Regions from separate parts of the Homo sapiens genome. Here region 2 is linked to region 1. A link means that fine-mapping ties the variant in region 1 to the expression of a gene that starts in the linked region. Tissue or cell type: lung. Region 1 holds a variant in brackets; the other region holds the start of a gene. All regions are shown on one strand. Distances are between the middles of the regions. Region 1 overlaps PUS7L (pseudouridine synthase 7 like). Region 2 holds the start of PUS7L (pseudouridine synthase 7 like).

Region 1 (16,248 bases):
CGTTGTGGTTTTGATTTGCATTTCCCTAATGATTAGTGATGTTCAGCATTTTTTCATATGCTTTTGGCCCATGGATGTCTTCTTTTGAGAAGTGTCTGTTCATGTCCTTTCTTCCGTTTTTAATGGGATAATTTTTTGCTTGTTAAGTTCTTCATAGATTCTGGATATCAGACCTTTGTTCATGCATACTTTGAAAATATTCTCTCCCATTCTGTAGATTGTCAGTTTACTCTGTTGATAGTTTCTTTGGCTGTGCAGAAGCTATTTAGTTTAATTAGGTCCCACTTGTCAATTTTTTTTTTTTTTTAGATGGAGTTTCCTTCTGTCACCCAGGCTGGAGTGCAGTGGTGCAATCTCGGCTCACTGCAACCTCCTCCTCCTGGGTTCAAGCCATTCTCCTGCCCCAGCCTCTCAAGTAGCTGGGATTACAAGTGGCCACCACCACACCTGGCTAATTTTTGTATTTTTATTAGAGACGGGGTTTCACCATGTTGGCCAGGCTGGTCTCAAACTCTTGACCTCAAGTGATCTACCCACCTCGGCCTCAGAAAGTGCTAGGATTACAGGCATGAGCCACCATGCCCAGCCTTCACTTGTCAATTATTGGCTTTGTTCCAGTTGCTTTTGGAGTCTGTCATGATATCTTTGTTAGGTCTTTTGTCCAGAATGATATTTCCTAGGTTTTCTTCTAGGGTTTTTATAGTTTTAGGTTTTACATTTACATTGTTAACCCATCTTGAGTTGATTTTTGTATATGGTAAAAAGAAGGGGTCCAGTTTCAATCCTCAGGATGTGGCTAACCAGTTATCCCAGCACCATTTATTAAATAGGGAGTCCTTTCCCTGTTGCTTGTTATTGTTGACTTTAACAAAAATCAAGTAGCTGTAGGTGTGTGGCCTTTATTTCTGGGTTCTCTAACCTGTTCCATTGGTCTATGTGTCTGTTTTTGTACCAGTACCATGCTGTTTTGGTTACTATAGCCTTGTAGTTTAGTTTGATGTCAGGTTGTGTGATGCCTCCCTCATTGCTATATTTGAATTAGTTTTAATTGCCAAGGTTGTTTGACGCTGAGCTAGCAGTAGTGCCTGGGAGTCGGTTAGGTGAAACAAATTGAGGTCTTTTACTAATATTAAAATTAAAACACCTTGATTTTTTTTTTGTGAGCTGTAAAAAACTGAAAGTCATGTAACTTTTGATTTAACTAACATTTTCTGAGTATCTATTATGTCAGTATCTCACACTTTAATCCATATTCCCACCCTGTGTGGAGGTATTATCTTCCCTTATTTGCAGATTGGAAACATACCTGAGTAGTTTACTAACCTAATCAAGGTCAAACAAAATAGCGTGTGGTTGAGCTTGATTATGCTTCTTAAATCAGTACTGTTTTCATCTACCTAACATTTGCCTTCTGAGAACAAGTTTTTGGATATTAACTTCCATTTAGGCCAGGCACGGTGGCTCACGCCTGTAATCCCAACACTTTGGGGAGGCCAAGACGAGTGGATCACGAGGTCAGGAGTTCAAGACCAGCCTGGCCAAGATGCTGAAACCCTGTCTCTACTAAAAATAAAAAAATTAGCTGGGCTACTTGGGAGGCTGAGGCTGGAGAATCGCTTGAACCCGGGAGGTGGAGGTTGCAGTGAGCCGAGATTGCCCAGCCTAGGTGACAGAGCGAGGCTCCACCTCAAAAAAAAAAAAAAACTAAACTAAAAATTAAAATATAACTTCCATTTCTACCAACTTGATATAACTTGCCATTGATTTAATAGGCATATTGGGGCATGTCTTGGGAGAGACAAGATACCTTTTGATTCTGAGACCAAAATATAAAGTAAAGGGGATCCCTTCAGGAAATCCCCAAATCATTTTGGAGTTTTCCCAAAGTATTTTGGGATTTGTATCATAATAATATGTAAAATCATTATAGATCATAGGAGGTGTTTTAGATGGTACCTGGCACAAATATCATTGAAAAAGCATAGTGAGAAACTTGTTCTTTTTCAATATACTTTCAGTCCTCACATCAATCATTCTGTTTAAGGAAGGAGAAAGCTGATTGATACTATTTACATATATCAACATTGGCTGATTTACCTTTTTAGCCAACTATGCAGGCCTCAGGCTCAGAAACATCAGCAGTCAACAATATAATATGTAGCTAGAATGTAATAGGATTGCATTGTTTTATTGAATTTATCTTCCCTTTTATTTATGGTAATCAATTCTGGCTTCCTGTTTATGTGATGGTATTATGTTTCCTTTAAAACTAAATTTAATTTTAAAGAGGTAGAATCAATTTAAAGGTATTAAATAAATAATAGTATAGACATAGCAGTAATTATGATACCAATACATGAAGGATTAGAGTATGGGAAATATACTGGTACAGTTGAGAATCCCTGAAATCAGAGATGGGCTCTACCACTGCTTTAATATGCGACTTTAGTAACCCACTGATTCTGTTGTAGAATTCTTGGACTTGAAGTACTGTTAGTTATCATTTTTCAGTCCAGGATAGTATTGCATCAAACAAAATTATGAAATATATACAAATTTGAGACATTATGAGCAGAGGCATTGATGACCACATGCTATATCTTAAAATTTTACTGATAGTTGATTTTAGCAAGTCTTATGAAACACTAAGAACAATGTCTGGTGCCTAGCAAATTCTCAGTAAATTTCAGCTAGTATTATTACAGTTAGTATTACTTTACTATGCTCCCTGATAAAATTTTTATAATAAAATGGTTAATGACTTTCCATTGAGGTCTGATCTGACTTAGTTTTAGCATAAAGTAATTACAATTCATATTTTTAGAGGTTTTTTTTTTTGTAGTAGTAGAAACAACTATTTCTAAATCTGGGGATTCAGTAGTTCATTCAAATTAGGATCTTTAAGAGCTGTCTAGGTCAATGTTCCTTAACGTTTTCTACCTGGGAGTAATCTTTAAGAGAACAAAAAGAAAATGAAACTCTATATAATTTAATGCAAAGTCTTTTACATTAATGTAAGGGTAGGAAAAGAGGTTGGAGGAAGATATGGGGAGGTAGGAAAATGGGACTTTTTTCCTCCATTTACTTTTGATGTTTGAATTTCAAACATGAGTATATTTGTGTATTATTTTGCGGTTAAAAACACTGAAGATTGCATAAAGATCAAAGAGGGAAATTTAAGGGAATTAATGGGTTATGATTGCATTTGTTCAGAATGGTTTTGGTGGCTCATGACAACATTTTGAGAGAGAGAGATTTTAATGGCACCAATGGCAGCTAGGATAACTAGTTTAAAGTTTAGGGCCTGTGTTAATAGATTTTGCTTTCTAGTTTCAGAAAGATTCTCTTATAGTACTGTTTTAATCTGTTTTTCTAAGCCCTCTGATTTATGTATATTTAATAGGCCACAAAATAATGTCAAATATATGGCATAATAACCAACAAATATTTGAATAAGTGAAAGGTACTCTACAAAATGCTATGGGAAAGACAAAAATAAATAATATCCCTTTCTTTGAGGGATTAACAGTGTTAATATCCCTTGTTTTCATTTGATTTGAAATGCCACTTGCAAGTGGAATATGCAGACTAAATGGTAAAGAGAAAAACAAGCAGCATCTTTTCATTTCACTTACAGCTCACTGTATGACCAATAATATGTTACTTGACCTCTCAGCACTCCATTCTAAATCCTTAAATGATACTTATTTAGCATTTCTAAGCATCTTGAGATCTCCTCTTAAAATATGCTTTGAACTATTCAGTCTAAATGCTGCTTTCTAAAAAGCTACTAGTTTAAAGAATGGGAAATGGTGTTAATGGAGTTAATCTTGTGTAATTTCAGTGTGGGTTGTCAAGAATACCTCTAAGTAAAGAAAATGACTCTAATCTTCTTAAGCAATTCATTTTCTCAGCAACTTTGAGGCAGGAGTTAATTTACTCTGCCTGTGTACATAGGCCATCTCTTACAAAAGAAAAATTTTACTATGGAAAGAAGTCAGAATAGCCATGAAATTATTTAAATTTAGTCTTTAGAACATATTACAAAATATAAGATATATTAAATTGTCTTTTTTGTTAGAAACTCAACTACCAATGTAGAAATAAAACTCCTGTTGCAAGGATGGAGTTTAGCCATGGAGTCAAAACAAGAGCTATTTGGTTATTTTAAAAGAGAAGAGATCAAAGAGCTGGTCACTCCTTAACTAAGGGTGTTTGGGCAGCAGGATAGGGTGAAGAGTGGAGGGGGTTGAACTCAATTCTTTATGCTTTTATACCAAGCCTCCCTTTTCTAATAAGCCTTACTGGCATTTCCTTAGACTAGTTAAGTCAGGATTCTGAGTTTTTCAGTACAATAGGGTTTTAATCTGAGCTGATCATTGTTTCCAATGCCTCCCCTGTGGCAGGGGAACATAAAGGACTAGTGTTCTTTTCTAAAAAGGGAAGATGGATATTTTTTCTATAACCTTTATAATTCCATTATAATAAAATGAATGATAGGTTATAATAAAATGAATTTTTTGCATATGATTTTCAAAAGGAAACTAATTTATTTTTCTATAAAATATCGCAAAGGAATCGAATACATTTTTATTCTATGTAAATAATAATATAATTTTCACATTTAGGAGGCAATAGCAAATCTGGGAAGCAGTTATTCTAAGTTGGAAGAGCATTATCCCAATGCATTGAAAACATTTGATGACTATTTTTTATGTCTTCTTTATTTTGATGATTATAATAATGTTCTAACTGGGTGGCCTTCGTTTTTCACTCTAGTCAGTCCATCTTGTTTACTATGTCAATTGTTCTCCAAAAAGTAGAAATGTCATTGTTTTGGGGCCATAGAACATTTCAGAAGCTTTCCAGTATCTATGCAGTAACAGTCCAAACCCCTCAACATAACACATTTACACCTGCAAGTATGGCCCCAAATCTTCAAGTGGCTTCTGTCACTACTCCATAGTACATACCCTTTGTTACAGCTGTTTCACAAATACAGGTTGAATATCCCTTATCTAAAATGTTTGGGACTAAAAGTTTCAGATTTCAGATATGTTTGGATTTTGGAATATTTGTACATGTATAATGAGATACTCTTAGAGTTGGGACCCAAGTCTAAACAAAATTCATTTATGTTTCATATATACCTTATACACATAACCTGAAGGTAATTTATTTTTCCCTTGGGAACACTGAATAGACTATATGTTGTGCACCTACATTTTGACTGTGACCTATCACATGAAGTCAGGTGTGGAATTTTCCATTTGTGGCATCATGTCAGTACTCAAAAAGTTTTGGATTTTGGATTTTGAATTTTCAGATTAGAGATGCTCAGCCTAATAGCAAATGTTCCCATGTTATACACCTCAACCTCCCATTCCCATTGGCTGGAACATCTCTGCTTATATTAAATGTCTTTTATGTGAAATCTGTGTTCTCATAGCCTTTTGTATAGTTCTCTACCATCTCATGGCTCACATTGTATTGTACTTATTTGATTAAATATCTGGATCATCTACTGTGAATTATTCAAGAGCATTGATCTTTATACCTCTGGCACCTATCAGTGCCTGACATATAACAGGGTTAAAAATGCTGAGTGAATACTGCAAATATACCTTAGCAAATTTATTTGCTGAATACACATCTCAAGAAAGTTCTGAAATAGTTATTTCCCCTCATAGAAAGTTTAGAGTATTAAAATTGGGTATCTTTATAATGCTTTTTCTTTTGTAATACTTTCATCTTTGCCTTTTATTGAAATATTAAATGCATTGTAGAATTTGATTTAAAATTTAGAACAAGCTGTCAGGTATGATAACTAGTCTCATTTAACAAATGAGGATTCCAGGGCTTGAAGAAGTTAAGTAGCTTCCTCTAGATTGTAAAGAGAGTCTAACCTGGCCCTTTTTGGTTTTAAGGGCATGATGATAACCACTTGCTCTACTGATTTCTAATGGAAAGTGCTTCAGTTTTCCACTTTGCCTAGCTAGTGATTATTTAATATCTGCTTATCTCTGAATTTATCTGCATATTTCTAAAACTTTATGACATTAAGGAAAGTTGGGGAAAATTCACTTTAAGTGTTGTAATGACAATAGCTATCAATCATTGAGTACTGTGTACTAAGCATTTTATATTTTATCAACAAGTACTTACATGTGGGATAAGTACTGTTATTATTTTCATTTTATAGATGAGGACACATATAGAATGCAGTTAGGAAACTAGAGAAAGAGAAAACATGGAGAATTATCTGGAACTAATAAGACAGTAAAGTACAGATTTAAGAAGTTCAGTGAATCCCAAGCAGTGTAAATTAAAAAACTACATTGAGATACATCATAGTGAATATGCAAAACATCAATAATAAAAAGAAAAACCTTAAAGGCAGCTTTAACAGTATACTGAATGACCAATATACTCAGCAGCCACAGAACCTCTATTCTTTTAAAGCATCCATGGGACATTTATAGAAATTGACTATGCACTGGACTATAAGCATATGCAATAAAATTTCAAATGACTGAAACCATATGAGTATATTCTTTTGCCACAACACAATTAGGCTAGAAATGAACAACAAAAAGATAACAGGAAAATCTCTATATATCAGAAATTAAGAGATGCACTTATTTATTTTTTGTTTTTTGTGATGGAGTCTCACTCTATCACCCGTGCAGTGGCACGATCTTGGCTCACTGCAACCTCTGCCTCTTGGGTTCAAGTGATTCTCCTGTATCAGCCTCCCAAGGAGCTAGGATTACAGGCGTGTGCCACCATACCCAGCTAATTTTTGTATTTTTATTAGAGATGGGATTTCACCATGTTGGCCATGCTGGTCTCAAACTCCTGACCTCAAATGATCTGCCAGCCTCAGCCTCCCAAAATGCTGGGATTACAGATGAAGAGATACACTTCTAAGTAATCTATATGTCAAGTAAGACAAAATGAAATTAGAAAATATTTTTAAGTCAATGATATTAAACCATACTACACATCAAAACTTGTGGGATGCACTTAAAGCAGCATGTAGAGGGAGATTATATTCATAAATGCTTATGGTAGAAAAGAAGGAAGTCTGTACATTATGTAGCTATGCACCCATCTAAAGAAGTTAGGAAAATGACATCAAGTAGAACATCAAAAGAAAGAAGGAAAGGATAACTTAAAACAGAAATGAATGAAATAAAACCAGAATAGAAGAGACGATCTACAAATCCAAAAGTTGGTTTGTTGAAAATACTAGTAGAGCTGACATACTTGTGGTGAGACTGATGGAAATAATGCAGTTACAACTAACCAATATCATAATTGGAAAGGAAATCACTATAGGTGCTGTAAAAATTAAAAAGATAATAGAATATTATGAACAATTTTCTGCCAATATTATTGAAAGTTTAGATAAAATGGAAAATTCATTTAAAAATATAATTTGACAGTATTATGTTATGTGAATACTATAATGATAATCCTGTAATCATTAAATGAACCAGTAGTTTAAAATTTTTCCATATAGGGAAGGTCAGGGCCAGATGTGTTCAATGGTTGGTTCTACTAGACATTCAAAAAAATAATAATTCAAGTCTACACAAACTTTCCTGAGATTAGAAAAAATAAAGAAGAGTCCCCCCACCTGTTTCTTACTTTATGAGACCACACCTAAAAGATAGAAGACTGCTTTGCAACCAAGAAATCCTTCATGAACACCTCTTTAATCACAAGTCCTCAACTCCAAGGTTAGCTTTATTTCAACTTTTATAATACTTTTCTTACTTTTCTTGATAGCTTTACCACCCATGTATTCATTCCTAAAAAATACACAGTTTTGTCTGATTTTGAATTTTATGTGAATGGAATTGTACATATCTGTGTTTGTGTCTTCCTTGTTTTACTCAATACTGTTTCTGAGATCAATCA[C/T]ATTATTTGTTAATATTTTGTTTAGGATTTTTGCATCTCTATTTCAGTGTGTGTTTGGAATGTAAATTTCCATTCTCAGACTATCTTTTGGCCTGAATTTGGTTACATGAGTATATGTTCTAAAAATATTACTTACACTTTCAATAAATTTTAAGGACTTTTATATTGTTATGTATCAAATTTTTTAGAATGCAAGAATAAATATTATAAAACATCCTTTGGTTTGAGGAAACTACTAAATCTGTTAATAATCCTTTCAGCTCTATTGAAACAGATTCGTTTTTAAAAGCTGCCCTGTTTTTGCTTTGGGGTTTGGGGAACACACACACACGCAGATGCACACAAACGAACACATATATTGAACTTGCATATATATATATATATATATATATATATATATTTTTTTTTTTTTTTTTTTTTTTTTTTTTTTTCTTGAGACAGAGTCTCACTCTGTTGCCAGGCTGGAGTGCAGTGGCACAATCTCGGCTCACTGCAACCTCCGCCTCCCGGGTTCAAGCAATTCTCCTGCCTCAGCCTCCCGAGTAGCTGGGACTACAGGTGTGTGCCACCATGCCCAGCTAATTTTTGTATCTTTAGTAGAGACGAGGTTTTACCATGTTGGCCAGGATGGTCTTGATCTCTTGACTTCTTGATCCGCCCCCCTCAGCCTCCCAAAGTGCTGGGATTGCAGGTGTGAGCTACTGTGCCCAGCTGGTGAACTTGCATTTTAAATGTAATAGGGAAGTAGTCTACCCTCAGCCTCCCAAAGTGCTGGGATTACAGGGGTGAGCTACCGTGCCCGGCTGGTGAACTTGCATTTTAAACGTAATAGCGGAGTAGTCTATGAGAAAACCCATGGTGATTACCATGACAACAAAGGAAACCATCTATAGAATGAAGACACAACCTACGGAATGGGAGAAAACATTTGCAAACCATACATATCATAAGGGGTTAATATCCAAAAGTAATTAATAGCAAGAAAAAAACTTGATTAAAATATGGACAAAGGACCTGAATAGACATTTCTCAAAGAAAGACATATAAATAACCAATAGGTGTATGAAAAAATGCTCAGCATCACTAATCATTAGGGAAATGCAAATCAAAACCACAGTGACTATCACCTCACATCTCTTAGAATGGCTATTATTAAAAAAGATGAAAGAACAAATCTTGCCAAGGATGTGGAGAAAAGGAAATCCTTGTACATTGTTGGTGGGAATGTAAATTAGTACAGACATTATAGAAAATAGTATAGAAACTACTCAAAAAATTAAAAATAGAACTACCATATGATTCAACAATCTTACTACTGGGCATATATTCGAAGGAAATGAAGTAAGTATGTTGAAGAGATCTTTGCACTCCCACGTTTATTGCAGCAGCATTCACAGTAGCCACAATACAAACCAACCATTCAGCAGATGAATAGATACAGAAAATGTGGTGCATATACACAATGGAATACTATTAAGCCTTTAAAAAGAAGGAAATTCGGTCATTTGCTATAACATGGATGAACCTGGAGGACTTTTCAATAGCTGTAAACTTTGGATGACTCTAAAAGAAGACTAAAATTTTCCAAAAAATTTTATATGCAGTTAAACAGCATTTACTATTTGGTAGGCACTGTCACAAACACTTTGCCTGTTATTCTTTTAATCCTAAGTTTAGCCAAGAAGTGTATATACCCATTGCACACACAAAACCCACTATTAAAATATTATGGTCAGAAAAGCAAGCGCGAATGTCTCATTAAAATTGCAAAAATATTTTATGTTGAAATTTTATACAAATTCTATACTTAATATCTTCCCTAGTAGTTGTATTTTGTTTTTCTTATAATTATTTAAAGAAAGGTAATCATTTTTTTCCCCCACTGATACCCCTAATCCTCTCCAGTCTACTTTAGAGAGACACAATTATCATTTTCTTCATGTGAGGGGAAAAAGTTGGGGAGCAATACACTATATGGAGTCAGATAAAATAGAGGAAGAAGCTGAAGGCAAAATTCCTCATTATTCTTAACCATTCTGCATTTTCAAGGTATATTAAAAATAAATAATGTTATAAAATATGATGTCCATATAAAAATGACATTTATTGCCCTGTGTGTTTCTTCTTTGTTTTTCTCTCTCTTTTTGGTCCATGCCCCCATGCTCTCAGTCTTCACTGGACTTGATCAGTTCCACAGCCACAGAAAGCCATAGGTGGTTGGTTGGCTTCATAAGATACTTCTGTGACCTTTGTACTGATGATTACTTAGTGTTCCCAAAAGAAAACTCACTAGGAGCCATCCTTCAACTTCAATGCCTGCTCTAATTTCACAGTGAAATATATCCTTGCACTTATAACCCCCTCATAGCTTATGTAACTCTACTGGGTATACTTGCATGGCTTAGTGCACTAAGAAAAGCTGGGGGCTACTCTACAGTTCACTCTGGCTATTTCTGGAGTTTTAGGATGTTTATTTTTATTATGCAATCAGTTTTTAGATGATGAATTAAAGTATTTTGATAATCAGCTGAATAGCTCTAACAATTGCAGTTGAATAGAATTTCTTTTAGTAGGAGCTACTGGGAAATATTCTGTATATGTTCTTTGATAAGAAAAATTAGCAAACTTAGCATTTTCAATCCTTGACTACTGCATTTACAATTGTATTTCATGTTATCCAAGAGACTAGATAAAACACTGTCTTATGAGACATGAGTTAGAATTTAGATTTCTGCCAAAACACCTTTAGGTGACTTTTGATATGAACATAGCTGTGTAAGTGGGGATTTTTTCCCCCTTCTGGAAGTCATACAAAAGTAATGAGAAAAATGACGTTAAAAAAACCCCTACAAACAATATAATAAGCAAATTTAACGACATCTATGAGCTACCAAGAGCAGATGAGACCTGAAAATTTGCATAATAGAGAATGAAAAAAGTGGCAAGACTGTTCAATAATAGCGGATCTCAAAAGCAGCAAAACTGCTTTTTCTAAAGAAAAAGTTAATTTGCTTATTGTCAAGGGTGTACAAAATTAAGTAAGCAAAACTGGCAGCAGAAACCCTGCTGAACCTGACTTGGGGCTAAACAAAGCATCACAAACAATGGTGTGCTATAGTTGTAGAAGTAGAAGAGGGAATCTTTGAGTTATAAAGCTTGGAAGATTTTCTTGGCCTCTCCCTCCTAATCAAGATCTTCCTGCAAATAGCTGCTCTGGGAAATTTAACTCATTGAATTACTAGTAATAAAAGATACTGGCATGGCCTCAATACATAGATACTGTAAGATAAACATGTGGAAGAGAGCAGCAAAATTTACCAACAGACTACACACAGGTGGCCATAAAGAAGATAAAAAATGTGATAAACATAATTTTTTTGTAAAGTAATAATTTCTATAAAGGATGGCTATAAAAAAGAAATGGATCAAGTATAAAAACACAGGAAAGATATAACAAGACGAAAGGAGGAGGAGGTGAAACCTGAGATAGTGGATCTTAGGAAAGATGCAAAAGACAAAAGCAAAATCATCAGAAAAATGGAAATAAATTGAAAGAAGCACAGGTAACAATAGACAATGAGGAAAACAAATTAAGAGAAAACAAAGACTACCACTAGAACCAAGTTGAGCTCTCCCAAGTATGAAGATTTAAACACACAACAGGTACCCACAAATGCAAGAAAAACAATAAAATGAAATGTTAATGGGTTAGGATATAAAAGACTACAAAAGACCTTTATGTTTGTGTTAACAAGAATCTCTGAGACAAAACAAAAATTATACTTTCCCATGGAATTAACAGAGGGTAATGAATTTAAGGAAAGCTTGATGGACTGACTATAAGGGTGATATAATTTTTTTTTTCTTTTTTAAGCAACATGGTCTTGCTATGTTGTTCAGGCTGGAGTGCACTGCCTATTCACAGGTGTGATTATCATAAGGCACTGCAGCCTCAAACTACTGGGCTCAAGCAATCCCCCTGCCACAGTCTCCAAGTAGCTGGGACTACAGGCACATGGCACTGCCCCAGGCTGACATGAATTCTTTATGGCTAAGCAGAGAGCCATATTAGCTCCCACTCTGAGGGTAGGTAAACTCAACCTAACATAATCTGTGTACCAGCCTAAGCTCAACTCAAACTCTAGAAAGAGTCAGAATAAACAGCCTTTCTTCCAACAGCCAAAAAAGGAAAGAGCTTGTACTGTTTGGGAAATAAATAAAACAAAACACCACTGATATCTTATACTCAATGTTGGGAATTGAATTCTTAAAATAAGGCATTTAATGAAGCAAGAAAATGTGATCCATAATGAAGAAAACACTTAACGTTAAAATATTGAAGAGCTTCTCCTAAAAGATCAGAAAGAAGGCAAAAATGTCTGCTGTCACCACTTCCGTGATAGTAGAGGTCCTAGCCAGGGAGATAAAGTAAGGAAAAGAAATAACATGTAAATACATAAAGTTTGGAAAGGAATAAATTTTTATCTTTGGAAGACAACATGTTGGTGGACATACAAAATGCAAAGGAATCTACAAACAGCCAGAACTAATCGTTGCTTTTAGGAAGTTCACAGACTAAAAGGTCAATGTGCAAAAGTTAACTCTATTTCTATGTAATAGCAACGAATAATTGAACAATGAAAATTTAAAAACAATAATATTTACAATAGCATAAAAGTATAAAACAAATAGGAGTGTATTTAACAAGTGGTTACATGTTCTCTACACTGTTAACAAAACATTTCTGAGAGAAAAATTAAAAAGACCTAAATAAGTGGACAGATGTATGATGTTCATGACAGTAAGACTCAATGTTGTTAAAATGGTTTACCCCAAATTGGTATACAGATTAGATTAAATGCCAACCAAAACACAACCTCTGTTTGACAGCCTGTTGTTTGTGTGAAAATGGTACAAATCAGCCGTCTCCAACCTTTTTGGCACCAGGAACTGGTTTCGTGGATGACAATTTTTCCATGGACGGGGCAGGGGAATGTGGGGAGATGGTTTTGGGATGAAACTGTTCCACCTCAGATCATCAGGCATTAGGAGCCCAAGACCTAGATCCCTCGCATGCACAGTTCACAATAGGATTTGCATCCCTATGAGAATCTAATGCTGCCGCTGATCTGACAGGAGGAAGAGCTCAGGCGGTAATGGTGGCTTGCCTGCCACTCACCTCCGGCTATGTGGCTGGGTTCCTAACAGTCCAGTGCCAGTACCAGTGGGTACCAGTCTGTGGCCCGGGAGCTGGGAACCCCTGGAACAATGATTTGGAAAATTGTTTGTCATTTTCTCATAAATTTCACATACACTTACAATATGATTCAGTAATTCCAAACTAGGTATTTACCAAAGATTAATGAAAATACATGTCTACACAAAAGAAGGATAAAAAATGTTCATGGTAACTGGGCTGTGCCGAGGTGGCTCACACCTGTAATCCCAGCACTTTGGGAGGCCGAGGCGGGCGGATCATGAGGTCAAGAGATTGAGACCATCCTGGCCAACATGGTGAAACCCTGTCTCTACTAAAAATACAAAAAATTAGCTGGGTGTGGTGGCGCGCGCCTGTAGTCCCAGCTACTCAGGAGGCTGAGGCAGGAAAATCGCTTGAACCTGGGAGATGGAGGTTGCAGTGAGCTGAGATCGTGCCACTGCACTCCAGCCTGGTGACAGAGCGAGACTCCATCTCAAAAAATAAATAAATAAATAAATAATAAATAAATAAATGTTCATGGTAACTTTATAATAGTCAACAACTGGAAGCAACCCAAATGTCCACAAAAGGAACATGGATAAACAGGTGATGGTATAGTTACATAATGGAATAAAAAACAATTTTAAGCTACTGATCACGCTGCATGCATGCATATTAAAAACATTATGTTACATAAGAGAAGCCAGAAGCAAAACAGAACATGTACTATGATTCCATTTATATGAAGTTCAAAGCAGGCAAAATAAACTATGGTAATAAAAATCAGATCAATGGTTGCCTCAGTTTGTAGGGGGGAGAAGAAGCCAGTGTGCAGAGGGAAGGAGGTTTGATTTGATCCAAGGGCCACAGGGAATTTTTCGTGTGAAAGAAATGTTTGGTACCTTGAGATGGGATAAATGGATTTATTAATTTGTCAAAACTTGTTACGCTGTACACAGTTAAGATCTGTGCATTTCTGCATGTAAATTATACTTGAATAAAAATATTATAAAATGTGTGTGGTAGCCATGGCAATTTTTCACTCAAATACTCCTCCAAGAGTGAGATTGGCAGGCAGCATGCAGTTAGCTACAGGCCTGCGTTTAGTTACCTACATACTTTCAGGATGTGCTGCAGCGTTGACGACAAGGACATGTTCTCTCCTGCAACTCCACCAGTGCTTAGCAGGGCAGGGATATTAAGGCCACATCTGTGCCCAATGTGAGGCTTCTCTAATGCACAGTCTTTGTTCTGGAGCTCCCTGTAAGGTTGGCCATGACTTTTTCAGAGCTGCACTGCAGTCAGAGGATCTTCCTACCCAACCCAACTATCCTTTCCTTCCCCTCCCTCTTCTCAAGTTTCAGACCCATACCATGGTCTGAAGGCTTTTCCTGCCTACTCTTGCTCCTTCTCTTCATTATCTGTCAGTCATTAATCCCCAAAACCTTTTGCATGTCTAATTCCATCTTGGCTTCTGACACAAACTATCAATTTAAAATAAAACTGTGAGGAAAATGAGGCCATATATATGTCATATCATAGCAGAAAGCAAATCTCACTCTATCCTGTATGATACAGGCTCACCTAAAACAAATAGATTCAAAGTGCTCATATATAAAGTCGTGAACAAAGGCAAATATGAACAGAAAGCAAAGGTCATAATGTTAATATCAGTTTAGAATGAATTCAAGTCAAAATCATTAAATAAGACAAAGAAGGATGCTTTATAGTGCTAAAACTTCCAGATTACAAAATTAAAATAAGCTGGAATAGTTATGCATTGAATAAAAGGCGTTTCATCAGTCCAAAAGCAGGTATTATATAAATAGAAGGAAAGATAGAAATATACTACTTTTAGGACTCTTCACTTCCCTCCATCCATGACAGGGTAAGTGGGAAAAAATATGTTTAGATATGAAAGAATTATGTTAATTCATAAGGTAGATATTTTATATATATAAAATGAGCTATATGCATGGAGAATACAGAATAAAACTTGTTTTCATTGCCAATGTAGCAGTCTATGGAAACTGGCCATATATTTACAAACATAAAAAATTAAATCCCATAACATTGAAAGAGTGGAAGCATCTTTCAATCACAATTTTATACAAGTAGAAATGATTAAGGAGTATAGCAAAAACACTATGAGGTCCCATGAGAGCAGGGACATTGTTGGTTTGTGGGTTTTTATCATTGTATCCTCAGCACCTGGCACAGTGCCTGGCACATAGTAGGTACTCAATAATTCTTATGACTGAGTAAATGAAGAATAGAAGACAATTCTATTGATGTAATTCTTTGTGAAGGACTACAACTAAACTTATTCCACGTAGATGAAAGTCTCTCTGGAGGCAGAGAGATGATATGCTCATTGATTGACTCATTTGTTCATTCTACAAATATTTACTTACATGGCAGACACTAGGCTAAGCATGAAGTAAACAGTGATAAGGGGAATAGACATAGTTCCTGACCTCAAAGAACTCACAGCCCGGGAGGTAACTGTTGAAGAACTTAACAATCCTCTACTTCTAATATTTTATGTATGACTGTAATTATACATTTGTAATGGTGCTGTAATAGAAGGTTCTCATGACTATTTTCTTGATTCTCATACAGATGTTGTATCCAATATATAGATAAAGAAACAGATACTTAAAAAGTTATGCTTTGTATTTCATTTAATTTAAGAAATATTTATTGAGTGCCCACTGTATGTCAAATATTTCTCTAGGAGTTGGAGACACAGAAATGAACAAGACAGAGAATGATCCTTCTAGTGAAGATGGTGGGAGGGAGCTGGTAAACAATAAACAAGTAAGTTTAAAAAATCTGGTAAGTATTACAGAATAAACAAACAGATTGACGCAAGTAGAAAGTGACTATAGAGAGGGAATTCAAGGAAGGACTTTCTTAAGGTTGTGACATAGAAACTGAAAAATAAAGAGTTAGGGGAGGGGAGTGGAGCAAGACGGCAGAATAGAAGCTCCACCGATTGTCTCCCCCCAACAAGGACACCAATTTAACAACTACACAAAAAAAGCACCTTCATAAGAACAAAAAATCAGGTGAGCACTCACAGTATCTGGCTTTAACTTCACATAACTGAAAGAGGTACT
Region 2 (16,248 bases), 40 kb before region 1:
TTCTCTCATAGTCCTTAGTGACTATTTCATACCTTTACTTCTTTCTATGTGGATTTTATTTGTTCTGCGTGTCCCTCATTCTCAATAGGAAATGATCTTTCCTTCCAATTAAGACAAATAGACTCAGATATTCTTCTGTCAATTATTTTTGCTTCCCTATATATATTTTAAAAATACAATTTTAGAGTAAATAATGTGTTCATATGGAACAACATTCTAAAACTATCAAAAAGAGTAAAAAGCGAAAAGCTTCTCTGTATCAGAGGCTTCTATGTTAGTATTCACTTCTTCTCTTTGGACTTCTTTGACCACATCTAAATAGGTCTAGCTGCCCTTCACCTAATTATCTTTCATCACTGCACAATGTATTTGTAATCATATACTTATTTGTTTACCTGTTTACTGTCTCCCATATTCGATTTTAAGATCCATGAGTTCAGGACCATGCTAATTTTATTCATGAATATACACCTAGTGACTTGCATACTGTAGATAATGGTATTGTTCAGTATTTACTTTTGGAACAACTAAATTATTTCCCAGTACAGTTTTATCATCTCTATTTTACAAAGGTGGTAAGTGAGAGATCCAGGACTTACAATTATGTCTGACTCCAAAAGTCATGCCATACAACTCTGCTTTTATAACACAATGCATTGTTCATGCCATTCTCTATTTCAGAAAGACCATTCCTTTCCTTTCATTCATGAATACATTCAGAAAATATTTATGTCAGTCTTTGTACTAACAAGTGGGAGCACAGAGAAGAGAAAATCTTTGTTTCCAAGCTGTTCAGTATACCAGGGGATACAAACAGTGACAGGGAGTGATAAATGCTGCAAGAATGTTATGGGGCCCAGAAAAGGGGCATCAAGCAGAGGCAGTCTGGAATAGGGATATCAAGACAGATTTGGTTGGAGTAGGAGGTTGGAAGGATGAATGAAAGGGAATGAGGATAAGCCCAAAAGAAAATTCCAGGCAGAGGGAATAGCATGGGAAAAGGTAAGAGCATGTGTGTCTCAGGCAAAGAGCTTGCTATGGCTGGACCACAGGATGCCTGTGATTAAGTGAGAAGAGATGAGGGTGGAAAGGTAGCAGGGCCAGATCATCATGTACCTCATGTGCTAAGACAAAGAGTTTGAACTTATAAACTAAAAGTTACAGGAGAGCCACTTTAGGATTTTTAGGAGGGATGTTAAATAATCTTATATGGTTAAGTGGATTCCTCTGGATAAAAATCAAAGGGATGTATATTGAGGCAAGAAAATTAGTTTGAAAACTTCTGCAATAATCCAGGTGAGCAGAAAGGAGAGCTTGGAAAAAGTATAGGGTAGGGGAATGGAGAGGTAAAACGTCAAAACATTTAGGAGGCCAAATCAAAACAATTTCACTAGAGATGAGCGATTAGAAGAAAGGGAGATAGAATGAAGTTTTTTTTTTTTTTTTGGCTCATGTTAAATGTGAAATATCTACCTTTGGCACTATCTAGGAGCCTTCATACCAAGTACTTATATATGTGGTCTGGAGCTTAGGAGAGAGGTTTCAGCAAAGAATGCTCATTATGTAAGTATTCTCATATATAAGGGGTTTTCAAAGAGTTCATGGAAAATGCATATCGTGCAAAAACCATGCATGGATTTCAATTTTTTTTTTTTTGCAAAATGTATTTCCAAAATAAACTCATACTAACTTATCATTCATGTCTAAACAGGATCTAGTTGAGACACTGAGAAGAATAAGACAGTTTGAAAAGAACCTCTACCACAGCAACATGAATTCTGCTAAAACTAAAGCAAGAACAAACACCACATTTATGGTGGAGGTTGGTTGGAAGAATGGTGAAATCACTGATGCTTTATTTATGGGGACAATGCCCCCAGAAAATCAGCAGTGTACAAATCAGTAACTCATTTTAAGGGATGAGATGATGTTGAAGATGAAGCCTGCTGCGGCAGACCATCCACATCGATTTTCGAGGAAAACATTCATCTCGTTTGTGCCCTAAATGAAGAGTACCTATAATTAACAGCAGAACCAACAGTGAACACCATAGACAACTAGTTCAGCCTATACAATTCTGACTGAAAATTAAAGTTGAGCAAACTTTCCACTTGATGGCTGCCCAAACTGTTGTACCCAGATCAGCTGCAGATGCGAGCAGAGCTTTCAATGGAAACTTTAAACAAGTGGGATGAAGATCCTAAACCATTTCCTCAAAAAATTGTAACAGGAGATGAAACATGACTTTACGAGTATGATCCTAAAGCACAATCAAAGCAATGGCTCCCCCAAAGTGGCAGTGGTCCAATTAAAGCAAAAGCAGACAGTCAAAAGCAAGGGCATGGCTGCAGGTTTTTGGGATGCTCAAGGTATTTTGCTTGCTGACTTTCTGGAGGGAAAAAGAATGGTAACATCTGCTTATTAGAGAGGGTTTTGAGAAACAGTAGCTTTTCTAAGTGTTTCTAAACTAAAGCTTTTCTGTTACAGCTTTAGTCAAATGTTTAGCAGAAAAACACCTGGGAAAGCTTCACCACAGAGTCCTTCTCCATCACAATGCCCCTGCTCTTTTCTCTCATCAAACAAGGGCAATTCTGTGAGTTTCAACTGGAAATCATTAGGCATCCACCTTACAGTCCTGATTTGTCTCCTTCTGACTTCTTTTTGTTTCCCAATCTTGAAAAATCTTCATAGAGCACCCATTTTTCTTCAGTTAATAATGTAAAAAAGACTTCATTGATGTGGTTAAATTCCCAGGACTCTCAGTTCTTTAGGGATGGCCCAAATGGCTGGTGTTATCGCTTACAAAAGTGTCTTGAACTTCATGGGCTTATGTTCAGAAATAAAGTTTACAGTTTTGTTTTTGTTTTTGGAGTCTTGCTCTATCATCCAGGCTGTAGTGCAGTGGTGCAATTTTGGCTTACTGCAACCTCTGCCTCCCAGGTTTAAGCGATTCTCCTGCCTCAGCCTCCCAAGTAGCTGGGATTACAGGTGTGCACCACCACACCCAGCTAATTCTTGTATTTTTGGTAGAGATGGGGTTTCGCCATGTTGACCAGGCTGGTCTTGAACTCCTGACCTCAGGTGATCTGCCCACCTCGGCCTCCCAAAGTGCTGGGATTACAGGTATGAGCCATAGTGCTGAGCCAAAGTTTACATTTTTTATCTTTTAATTCAATTTTTCCACAAACTTTTTGAAATGCCCTCATACAAATTAAGAGCATATACACATATACAGTTGAAGCAACAATAAAATGAGGTTGCCTATTAGGAATGCTTAGAATGGAAAGGAATGATGTGAAAGAAGAATTTTAAAAAATACTGCTTAGTCATGAAGGCAAGAAAAAAACCAGGATGGTAGCATACCAGAGACTTCTAGAAAAGGTGGCAGGTTGGTATAAAAGACTCAGAGAGGTCAAATAGACACTGATGGATATGTTAGACTCTGAAATCAGAAGGCCATTGGTGACTTGGGAACAGCTATAGTGAAAAAGTGAGTGAATGGCAAAAACAGATTTTCCAAGAAGTCTGGTTATGAAGGGAAGGAGAAAGAGAGAGAGAGGAGTATGAGGGGAGGGAAAATGGGGGTGGAGGGGTAGGGAAAGAGAGGGAGGAGAGCATGCAAGAGAGTAGCAGTTTTCAAATTTGGTCTCAGGACCTTTTACCCTCTTAAAAACTATTGTAGACCCCAAAGGGCTTTTGTTTATGTTGGTTATATCTACCAATATTTACCATAATAAATTGATGCTGAGAAACTTAAAAATTACTTATTAATTCATTTAAAATAATCATAAATATAGATGTTAGCATATATATTTTAATAAAATAATTACCTTTTCCTCAAAAACAGAAGAACAACATTGTTTTAAAGTTTTGCTAATCTCTTCAATATTTAACTTAATAGAAGAGAGCTGAATTCTTGTATCTGCTTCTGCACTCAACCCACTGCAGCATGTTGTTTTGGTTGATGTATATGAAGAAAATCCAGCTTCACACAGACATATAGTTATAAAGAAAGGTGTATTTTAATAGCCTTTTCACAAAGTAGTAGATATTTCTCTTTGATACTACACTAAAATTTGACAAGAAATAACTTCCTAAAGGTAAGCTGCAATGAGGAATCTGAAGCTGTATAAATTAACTTGGAACATTAAAATCCATTGCACTCTGAATGAATCTTTTAACTAAACATGATTTTGACCTTACAAATCTCCTGAAAGAGCATTAGGGACTCCAACCAGACTTTTGAGAACTGTTGGTGTTAAGGGTTTAAGACTTAAGCTGTTTGGCAATACAAATGGGATAATGAATAGCATATAGGGTGAAGAAATCAGCCTTGAATAGAGAGAAACCTCTTTTGAATCTAGAAAGAAGGAAGCAGAGGTTTAAATACAGATATATTTGAAGGGAGAAGAGTTCCCACATACTGTTATTTTTTCTGTGAAACAGGAAATGAAGTCATCTAGGGCCAGGTAAAAGAATAGCCCACATACCTTAAAGGCCACCTGGTAAATGCCTATTATTCCTTCAAGCCCAATTCAAAAGGCACTGTTAGCTTCCCCTGATTGTCATCTCTTTTGCTCCAAAATGTCACCTAGTCATTCTTCTGTTATAATAATTATTATGTTTTACTGTTTATGTGTTTGCTTTCTCTGTTAGATGGGTGCTCTCCTGAGCTAGGACCCAACCAAATTCACCTCAGCAACGACTCACAACATTTGTGTTGAATGAAAGGCTGATGACTTTTTAACTTTAATTAAGAAATTGTATCTAGGTTGCCTATAGACTCTGCAGTTGCTCTCTTCAAGTTATTTTTCCTTACTAAGATTTCTCTCTACTGTAAGGTACAACATGATTGACAAAGCTAGACAAGATAGAACTGCTTAGTAGTCTTATAAATTAGAGCAAAATACAAGGAATTGAGGAAAAAACCCAGACTATCTAAAGGCCAGGGATAAATTTGGTAGCTCTCCTGCACCCAGGCTTCCAGCAGAGGTGATAAGTGTAGGGATACTAGGAAAAAGAAGGCCTTCTGCAACTCCTCCACACATGTGCCCAGAAGTTCAAAATCCCAGAAATTAAAATTTTACTTTAAATGTATATTCATATACCACTCCCAACCACATACTTACAAGAACATAAGCCAAAATATTAACGTGGTTATCCCTTGGTGATGACTTTTATGATAGTTTTGTTTTCATTTTGCTTTTCTGAATTTTCAATAATGAAAACAGACTGGGCAAAAAAAAACTTAAAAAGTGTCATCTCTTTCAAATTCTTCAAGATTTACTTTAGTACACTTAGGATTAACACAGGTGGAACAGGATATGTTGCTTACAAATAAGTAAATACCTTCATGACTGTTTCCTCATACCACTAACTCTCATAGTAAAGAAAACCCATTCATATTTTCAAGTAAGACAATTCAGACAAGTGTAAAAGGTGGGGTGGTGATTGAGAAATATATTAAAATAAGCACCTGCTTATGGAATCCAATGCCTTCCCAAAGTACTGTGCCCAAAACAGGAGGGCAAAAGATTCTTGTCAAATGTGTTAATAAAGTTTTAAGACTGCTTCATTAGCACTTTGATCAGAGGAAAAGATTGTGCAGGGGTGGAGGGAAGATGAACTTTGAGGTTGCACAGGCCTAAGTTCTAACCAAAGCCAACTGTGACCAGAGCTAGTAAATACATTTCTCTGCACCTTGCTTTTCTTTATCTGAAAAACAGAGATAGTAATACCTAAGAATTGCTGTAAGAATTAAAATCAACACATGCAAAGGGCCAAATCTTGTCACATAATAATAGGTGGTCAAAAAAAAAAAGGAGCAATTATTATTTCCTGGCAGAAATTATTCTTATATCACATTATTTTTAAAGATATGTGCAGACTGTATTTAGGTTCAATTTCCAGAACAGTAGTGAGGATCTACTGAAAGCGTACAAATAACAAGTCTGAGAAAATAGCTAAGCTTTTGAGATGGTGGCTGTCTTATTTGATCAACCATGGTAATTTTAATGTATTTATATCCTTTCTAAAATACACTATTTACTTCCATATATTCTTAGCAAAATATGCTGTATAACCATTAATCTTTATTTTTAGATACTTTAACATCATCATTATGAACAAAAGCTGGTGAGGGCTTCCAGAGCTATTAAATTAGATAGGGCTGCCTATTACAAACTGGGATATGTGCTGGTGTACCATAAATTAAACTTAACATATCTTTCTTGAACATTGATCCAACACAACAGTAAGTAATTGAAAATGCTTTGCATATATTTAAAAAACAAAATATAATACCATTGACTCACCAAATATTTACTGAGTGTCTACTTTGTGCTAGATACTGCTCCAGGCCCCTGGAGATGAAGCATTAGGAAAATTAGAGAAAAAAAACAAAACAAAACCAAAACCTGAATTCATGGAGTTTATATTCTAATGGAGGAAGGAAGGCAATAAGCAAATAAATAAACTCTATAGTATGTTAGATGGTGCCAAGTGAAATGAAAGAACAAAACGAAATAGAGAAAAGGTTGTAATTATAAATATGGTAGTCACAGGAAGCCTCAATAAGAAGGTGCCATTTGATTAAAGGTCAAAAAGAAGGAGAAAGCCAGCCACTGGACTATCTGTGGGAAAAGTTTGTGGACAAAACGAAATGTAAATGCAAAGGTTGGAACTGGGCCCACTGGGCAACAGCAAGGACATGGTGAGACTGCAGAGGAGGGAACAGGCAAGTAGCAGATGAGGTCAGAAAGGTAAAGGGGCCAGGTCTTCAAGGGCCTTAGAGTTTTTGTATTGACTTTGTTTATCCTCTGGGTGAGATGTAGATGCTGGAAGTTTTGAGAAAAGAGACATGCTCTGTACTCATGTCTTAGAAGGATACTGGGGCTGCTGGGAATAAAGGATGTTGGAGTAAGGACAGAGAAGCAAGAAAGAAGCATTTAGGAGAGCCTACCAATAAGCCAGGTGGGACGTGCTGCAGGCTGGGACCAGGGTCGTAGCAGAGCAAGTGCAGAAGTCCTAGGATTCTGAGGTGGAGCCAATAGAAAGCTATGGGCTGATGTGGAGAGTGAGAAGACAGCATAACCAAGTTTACCGATATTTACTGAGATAGAGAAGGCTGAGGAAGGAGCAAGTTTGGCCTGGAATATCAGAAGCTCAGTTTGGAGAGGTAGAAAGCAAACTTCAAATGAACGCTCTGCAGGAAAACAGAAGAAATTTGAACTTCCCGATAGCCCTCTTCAAGGACCACTCCAAGAAAGGGAAAAGGCAGATTTTAGTATCCTCTGCTTACCAGGGGCCTTGGGCAGTTACGTTTTTGAAGCACTAATAGCGCCGTTTGTTCCCATTCTAAATGCTCAAAGTGCTTTCTCGCTTTCTCAGGGTTTGCTTTTTTTTTTTTTTTTTTCTTTTGAGACGGAGTCTCCCTCTGTTGCCCAGGCTGGAGTGTAGTGGCACGATCTCGGCTCACTGCAACCTCTGCCTCCTGGGTTCAAGCGATTCTCCTGCCTCAGCCCCCGGAGTAGCTGGCATTACGGGCGCCCGCCACTATGCCAGCTAAATTTTGTATCTTAGTAGAGACAGGGGTTTCACCATGTTGGCCAGGCTGGTCTCGAACTCCTGACCTCAAGCGATCCGCCCGCCTGGGCCTCCCAAAGTGCTGGGATTACAAGCATGAGCCACCGCACCTGGACAGGGTTTGCTTTTATCCCTTTGTCTCCCTCTGGCTTCCAAGCTGACAGGTACACTTTTTTCCCCCATCTGCGAATGTACTCATCTGATCCCATAAGCCGCCTCCACTTTCTAATTCCCTGGAAGCTTGGAGGCCGGAGAAACAAGCGAATTACAATCGTGTGGAGGCTCAGCGAGCTGCTGGCGCCACAGGCATCTGTCAGGTGCTGGCCTGACTTCCTGGTTCTGGGGAAAAGAGACTTCATTTCGCAGTCGGGTTCACGGAATCCAGGGCCTGAGAGGTGAGAAACTTGAGGTCCGACTGCGCCCCAGAACAGCTGGGTGACGTCCCTCCAAGCCTCAGGCTCTTCCTCAGGGCCGACGAACTTCTTGATTACCGGGGACCTACCCAAGTCTTTCTTCTGGAGTAAGCTCTGTCAAAGGAACCCACTTCCTCTCTAACTTTTCTCACGGATGATAAAGAGATTTCCGTTCCGCAGCCGACCCCAGCAACCCTGGGGCAGAGGTGCCGAGGCCTGGAAGCGGACCTCGGACGACGTTTGACCGAGGCATTAAGGCGGGGAATGCCTTACCTGCCCGGGCGCGGGCTGCTGAAGCCGGCGACAGAAGAACCAGCCGAACTAGGAAGCGCCGCGAAGGGGCGGGGCCTGCCGGGTTGGCCCCGCCCCACTTCCCCGATGGGCTTCATCTTGGCGCCTCCAGGCGGCTCCACAAAGTGAGAAACTCCACGTATTGCGTAGGGCGCGTCTTTACGTGGGCGCCTGCCCCTTTAATTACGCCCCTGTCGGAGGCTGAAACACTTAAGGCTTCCGGGCATGCGCACAGCGTTGTGCAAATGAATGCCTTCCACTGAACCGAGGTAGACGGGGTCGAGTTTCTTGCGCGATGGTGGGCTTGTATGTGTGTGTGTGTGTGTGTGTGTGGGGGGGGGGGGTGACGAGGTTGGCATTGAGGATCCATACCCTTTGCGCCCAAAGAAAGGTGACGTGGACTAGTGTCGTGCCTTTGGACAGGCAGAGTAAGAGGAGGGAGAAGAAACAGGTAGAGCTGCTGGCCTTGTCGGGGACACCTTTGGACGTGCTGGAGGGCAACGACGCCCTAGTTTTCTGTGAAGTTAAGTAGCTTCTGCAGGACTGGGTTCAGTATTTCTAGTACCTTCTCAGGATCCCTCCTCCGCCAACGAATTCCTCAACCACGGGCCAAGCAAACTACTCCCCCGCCCACTGTCAGCAGCAGTCTCTGTTGAATGGGAATACTGCACCTTCAGGCTTAACGCCACGTGGGCTCCTTTGCTGTCCTCCAGGTCAGTTCCACTCTTCTACCAGGATGCTGGAATTACATTCTCCCCAAGTTTCCCTACCTGTTTCACTTGCTTAGAATGTCTGTCTTCCTCCTTTTTTCTGGGAGAAAGAAAAGATCATTATTCTTTCAGGGCCAATCCCTACAGCTATGTTCTTGACCATGCTGTTTTGTTTTTGAACTCCTCTAACTGTTACTCCATCGGATACATCTTGCTCATTTCCATCAGAATCATCTTACAATTCCAAAAGCATGTTTTGGAATTGTGTCACTTTTCTACTCAAACACTAACAGTAGCCATCCATTGACCACCCAATAGATTCTAAGTCCTTGTCAGGGCATTCAACATCTTCCATAATCTGGTACTAACTCAGCTACATTTTCCAGCACTGTAGTCTCCCTGCATTCCCATCCCCACTGCTCTGTATCTGGACTGCTTGTTTTTCTTGCACACATTGCATGTTTTGTTTGTACATTACTTGTGAGGTCTCTGCCTCATTTCTATCTCTTGAACTATGGAGGACTTAGATGGCCACTTCTTGCATTATGCCTCTTCTAATTATCTTCCACTTCATTCCTACAGCTCTTATTTTGTACTAGTTATTTCATTTATTTAACAATAGTATTTATTGCAGACCTACCATGTGCTTGACACTGTTCAAAATGTGTGATCATCAGTAGTAAATAAGGCAGACAAGGTTACTCCTCACGTGGAACTAACATTCTCTTTGGAGGAGATATACAATAAATAATAAAGAAAAACTTTACCTAGAACTGCTATGCAGAAAATTAAATAGGGTTTTGTGAAAGAGAATCACTTGCTGGGCACGGTGGCTCACGCCTGTAACCCCAGCACTTTGGGAGGCCGAGGCGGGTGGATCACGAGGTCAGGAGTTCAAGACCACCCTGGCCAATATGGTGAAACCCCATCTCTACTAAAAAAATACAAGAATTAGCCGGGCGTGGTGGCGCGCCCCTGTGGTCCCAGCTACTCGGGAGGCTGAAGTAGGAGAATCGCTCGAACTCGGGAGGCGGAGGTTGCAGTGAGCCGAGATCATGCCACTGCACTCCAGCCTGGACGACAGAGTGAGACTTCGTCTCAAAAAAAAAGAGAATCACTTGCAGGTTCCTGTAGATTATTGGTCAGGAAAAACTTCTCTGAGGAAATGAATCCTAAAAGATGCAGCTATATGATTGGGGAGGGAACAATTTAAACAACAGGAACAGTTAGCACAAAACTATTGAAGAAGGCCAGAGTAGCTGGAGTATAGTGGGTAATGGGGTAAAGGTACAAATGAGTTTGGAGAATAAGCAGGGTCCCTAATCTTAGATGTCCTTGGAAGCCAGGGTGAGTAATTTGGATTTTATTGCAAATGTGACTAGAGGGTTTTAAACTGGATTGTGATATGATTTAATTTACCTTTTAAGACCATTCTGGCTGGTTTGTGGGCTAGTTATAGAAGCAGGAGTTAGGGACCTTCACAATATCTAAAAGTTTTTGGAATGGAAGTATTAAAGTTGGTGTGATAAAGGACATTGGGAGTCATAAGAATCAGATGCTTAAGGTTAATGCAGTTTTTGGAGATGAGAAAGTCAAAGTTATGACCGTGACAGTGGATGACCAAGATGAAGTAGAGGTGTGAGGTTGAGGTTGAGATTGAGGACTTGAGGGTCCAAGACATTGAATGGATGATCCATATAGATGATCATAAAAATCATGTTGGATAAGAAGGTAGTGAGCCAGAGATCAGTGAATGAAGCAGAGTTGTCTGGGGATCCGAGAGAGGATGACAGCAGATGGTAAAGCCCAATGGCAGGCTCTTCAAAAGAATTGGGGTTTTTGGAGGTAGTAGAGGAAGAAATGGCTTGCAACGAACAGTGACAAACATAGACCAATATTTACAGCCTCCAGGTCCTAAGGTAGATGGGTGGGAAAGAAAAAATAGCCTTTACTTGAGAGGACTGAAGAAGAAGCAGCCTGAAGAAATAGCCAGATTTCAATTAGGGCAAGAAAGTGAGGGAACTGTACAGGAAATTAAGTAATTAAGGAAAGTAAGTATATCTTATATATTCCTTAGGAAATTAGGATATGGAGAATTTGTAGTGATTTCTATATGGCATGATGGAAAGGATTGAGAAGGTGTGATTTGCTAAATTGGTTCAGATTAGTAGAATACATTATAGGTATGAGATGATGGTCCAGATGATGATAAGTTACTTGGAGAATGTGGGGGAAACACAGAACTCACTAGTATGGGGCCCCTGGGCAATTTATCTTTCCTGCAGCTCCATATGGTATGGTAGCCATGGGTTTGTGTGAAAAGTGAGAGATCAGAGTACTATTCTCTTGCATAGTGTTTCCAGGAAGCTCTGTAAGGGTTTCTTCTGTCTGATGCCAATGATATAGTTAGAACTTTCCTCTGGCTCAACCTTGAAAGCTTCTATTTGTCCTAATGGGGGCATTAGAGAAGGCCCAGGACTGACTTAATCCTACCTTGAAATATAATCAAATCACAAATTTGTATTTAGAACTTCATTTACCCATCAGTTTTCCTATTGTCTTTTTGTCACCTCTCCTGTCACTAACCACTAATAATATAAGAAAACTTAGCCACATGTTCTCTGGAATTAGCTGGAAATTTTAGGCTCCAGGAATGGAATTTGGACAAATCTTTGTTTTATAGTCCTGTGTTCTCACCTCTTCTTGTGAGCCTACAAATGATATTTTTAAGATAAAATTGACTCATTTTAATCCTGGATAATAGGTACAAATCTGGAGTGAGTGAAGATACAAGTTAACAAATCTTTAGCTATACCAGAAATAGTTTGCCTATTAATTCAGCTTGGTATAGGAGAGTCAAAGTACACAGGAAGTACATATAGTTATAAATTAAGTTAATGATACCATTTAAGAAGACTCAGAATTAAAAGAGAGACAGAATTAACTAAATCCTGCAAACCTATTCCTATTTGGTCATCCATAACTTCTCTTTCTGTTAACTAACCACCTCTTTGTTTTGTTTTCTAGGCACTGTTATAGAAGAATGGAAGAAGATACAGATTATAGAATCAGGTTTAGTTCTTTGTGTTTCTTTAATGATCACGTTGGATTTCATGGCACTATAAAAAGCTCACCAAGTGACTTTATTGTTATTGAAATTGATGAACAGGGACAGTTAGTTAATAAGACCATCGATGAGCCTATTTTCAAGATTAGTGAAATACAACTTGAGCCAAATAATTTTCCCAAAAAACCAAAACTAGATCTTCAAAATCTGTCCTTAGAAGATGGAAGAAACCAAGAAGTTCATACTTTGATTAAGTACACTGATGGTGACCAAAATCATCAGTCTGGTTCAGAAAAGGAAGATACTATCGTTGATGGAACTTCCAAATGTGAAGAAAAAGCTGATGTTTTAAGCTCCTTTTTGGATGAAAAAACTCATGAGTTACTGAATAATTTTGCCTGTGATGTAAGAGAGAAGTGGCTTTCTAAAACAGAGCTAATTGGACTACCTCCTGAATTCTCAATAGGCAGAATCCTTGACAAAAACCAGAGGGCTAGTTTACACAGTGCCATTAGGCAGAAATTTCCATTTTTAGTAACTGTAGGAAAAAACAGTGAAATTGTTGTAAAACCAAATCTTGAATATAAAGAACTTTGTCATTTGGTATCTGAAGAGGAAGCATTTGACTTTTTTAAATATTTGGATGCAAAGAAAGAAAATTCCAAATTTACCTTTAAACCTGATACAAACAAAGACCACAGAAAAGCTGTCCACCATTTTGTCAACAAAAAGTTTGGAAACCTTGTGGAAACCAAATCTTTTTCTAAAATGAATTGCAGTGCTGGTAATCCGAATGTGGTGGTAACAGTAAGATTTCGGGAAAAAGCACACAAACGTGGGAAAAGGCCTCTTTCTGAATGCCAAGAAGGAAAAGTTATATATACAGGTAATTTAATAAATCATCATCCATTTTCTTGGATAAGCTTAGCTAAATTTAAAATTGTGAAAATGAATTGAACAGACTTGGCTAGAGAGATTGGAAAGAATATATGATTTACCTTTAGGGAGAGGAATTGCTGATAAGCAATTTAAGCAACTCTAGGAATTCTTATTTATTCTGTTACTTACTAGAAGATGATAAAACCTTTTAAATTACACTGAATTTAAAAATTAGCCTTACTGATAACCTAGGCATTTATATTAGCCTATTCACAAATGTATAAAGTTGAAGCAGTTGGTTCGTGTTTAATAAGTTTTATTGAAGGTAAATCTTGATTTCATATTTTGGAAGTCATCTCAATTAAAATTAAGTTTTTAGAGACTAGAAGAATATATTTACTGTGCTTGGGAAAGTGAAGAGATACTCTGTAATCCAAAACAAATTATATTTCCCTACCCAAGGTAGGGAACCTGAAAACTTGGTCCTGCTGGTCTTTAGACAAGATGTTCTGAAACTTTAGCATGCATATAATCATCAAAAGTTCTTGTTAAAACAGATTTCAGAGCTCCATTCTCAGTTTCTGATTCTGGGGCTTTCACAGATTTCCAGGCAGTGTTTTTTCCTGGTCTGCTATGTTTTGAGAATCACTGTTTTAGGGTCTGTGTTTAATTCCCATGGTGGCTGGAACTGATGAACTCTCACTGTAAAAGTCCAGCTGACTAGGTTTAATTGGCCTCAATTCTACTTGAAGGATGGGAACTGTTTCAGATGATCATATTTAATAAATTTATTTAGCAAGATATTTTAAGATAAAACCAGGAACCTAAATTTGCACAGTGACACAGAAATAGGATGGTGCCATGTAGGGACTACAGGTGCAAATGAAAAGAGTTTGGACCTTGGAACTATGTGGGTTTGATTTGATATTATGACTTTTAGTTCACAAAAAGACTTATGAAATTTTTAACATGTTTAAGATTTGATTTCACAAATGTAAAAATGGGAAGAATAATACCTTGGGCAAGTTACTTAATAATTCATAACTTTTGGTTGTACTTGAAAAATAGGGTAATAGGAAAGCCTGACTCACAATGATATTCGAAGGATTAAATGAAATAATGAAATTGTTTACTATGTAATAGTTACTTAATATTAGGCATATAGTAAGTGTTAACAGATATATCCATTTTGAAGGAAAAACAATACTAGCTTTACTTGTAGAAAGAGGAATTGCTGGTGAGTGATTTAAGCAGCTCTAGGAATTCTTATTTATCTTATACTACTTGAAATTCTAACAATATTAATTTGGGTTAATGAGTAAAAAAATTATAGAACTTTATATATTAGTTTAAATTCACTTTTCTAAAGTTGTGAATAGTTGGAGGCATATGTTAAAAGGAGGAATGATGGTTCAAAAAACCTTTTATTTTTAATTTTAAATTACATTAAAATATACATAACATAAAATGTACCATCTTAACCATTTTTAAGTATCAGTGGCATTGAGGACAGTCACATGGTTGTACATCCCTCACCACCATTCATCTCCAGAATTTTTTCACCATCCCAAACTAAAACTCCATATTTATTAAACAATTCTTCCTCCTCTCCAGTTCTGAAAAATGGGAACCACCATTTTTCATTCTGTCTCTATGGATTAGACAACTCTAGGTGTCTCATATAAGTGGAATCATACAGTATTTGTCTTTTTGTAATGGGCTTATTTCACTTAGTATGTTGTCGAGATTCATCTATGTTGTAGCATGTGTTAGAATTTCCTTCCCTTTTAAGGCTGAATAATACCCCATGGTAGGTGTATGCCACATTTTGCTTACCCATTTGTCTGCCAGTGGATGGGATATAATGGTCAGTAAAGCACACGTGATATTTACTTTGTAAGCATTCAGCCTTGGAACTTGGAAAGAATTTGAGGGAGAATGTGGATGTGAGGTGACTTCTGAGGCTAGGTCATAAAAGTATTACACTTCTTGTCATGTTCTTGGATTGCTCACTCTGGGGAAAGCCAGCTGCTATGCTGTGAGGATACTCAAAACAGCCCTTTGGACAGGAACTAGAGCTTCATGCCAACAGCCAGTACCAACCTTCCAGCCACGTAAATGAGCCCCTTTGGGAATGGATCCTCCAGTTTCTTTCAGGCTTTTAAATAACTGCAGCCCATCAGAGTGAACAGGCAACCTACAGAATGGAAGAAAATTTTTGCAATCTACTCATCTGACAAAGGGCTAATATCCAGAATCTACAAAGAACTCAAACAAATTTACAAGAAAAAAACAACCCCATCAAAAAGTGGGCAAAGGATATGAACAGACACTTCTCAAAAGCAGACATTTATGCAGCCAACAGACACATGAAAAAATGCTCATCATCACTGGCCATCAGAGAAATGCAAATCAAAACCACAATGAGATATCATCTCACACCAGTTAGAATGGCGATCATTAAAAAGTCAGGAAACAGGTGACAGGTGCTAGAGAGGATGTGGAGAAATAGGAACACTTTTACACTGTTGGTGGGACTGTAAACTAGTTCAACCATTGTGGAAGACAGTGTGGCAATTCCTCAGGGATCTAGAACTAGAAATACCATTTGACCCAGCCATACCATTACTGGGTATATACCCAAAGGATTATAAATCATGCTGCTATAAAGACACATGCACACGTATGTTTATTGCAGCACTACTCAGAATAGCAAAGACTTGGAACCAACCCAAATGTCCAACAACGATAGACTGGATTAAGAAAATGTGGCACATACACACCATGGAATACTATGCAGCCATAAAAAATGATGAGTTCATGTCCTTTGTAGGGACGTGGATGAAGCTGGAAACCATCATTCTCAGCAAACTATCGCAAGGACAAAAAACCAAACACTGCATGTTCTCACTCATAGGTGGGAATTGAACAATGAGAACACCTGGACACCGGAAGGGGAACGTCACACACTGGGTCCTGTTGTGGAGTGGGGGGAGGGGGGAGGGATAGCCTTAGGAGATATACTTAATGTAAATGACAAGTTAATGGTTGCAGCACACCAACATGGCACATGTATACATATGTAACAAACCTGCATGTTGTGCACATGTACCCTAGAACTTAAAGTATAATAATATATATATATAAATTAAAAATAAATAAATAAATAACTGCAGCCCTAGCCACATCTAACTGCATGCAACCTCAGGAGAGCCTGAACTGGAACCACCAAACCAAAGAGTTCTTGAAGTCCTGATCCACAGAAACTACAGGAGATAAATGAATATTGTAAGCCACTAAGATT

The links.
Region 2: PUS7L starts here. The variant in region 1 is fine-mapped to the expression of PUS7L in lung (TOPMed, PIP above 0.99). The same link has a PIP of 0.9 or more in whole blood.

What each region holds. Positions count from the first base shown.
Region 1 is chr12:43,710,886-43,727,133 of GRCh38, reverse strand. PUS7L (pseudouridine synthase 7 like) reads left to right here. Exons shown (of 9, transcript NM_031292.5): 9 at 1-8,142. Among named protein-coding and RNA genes, the nearest start is that of PUS7L, 40 kb to the left of the region's middle. The variant C/T (reference allele first, on the strand shown) is at 7,927.
Region 2 is chr12:43,751,039-43,767,286 of GRCh38, reverse strand. It overlaps PUS7L (pseudouridine synthase 7 like), which reads left to right and starts at 8,497. Exons shown (of 9, transcript NM_031292.5): 1 at 8,497-8,557; 2 at 12,026-12,951. The coding sequence starts at 12,042. IRAK4 (interleukin 1 receptor associated kinase 4) reads right to left here and starts at 8,336. Exons shown (of 12, transcript NM_016123.4): 1 at 8,271-8,336. RefSeq lists enhancers at 7,630-7,689, 8,310-8,419, 8,760-8,809.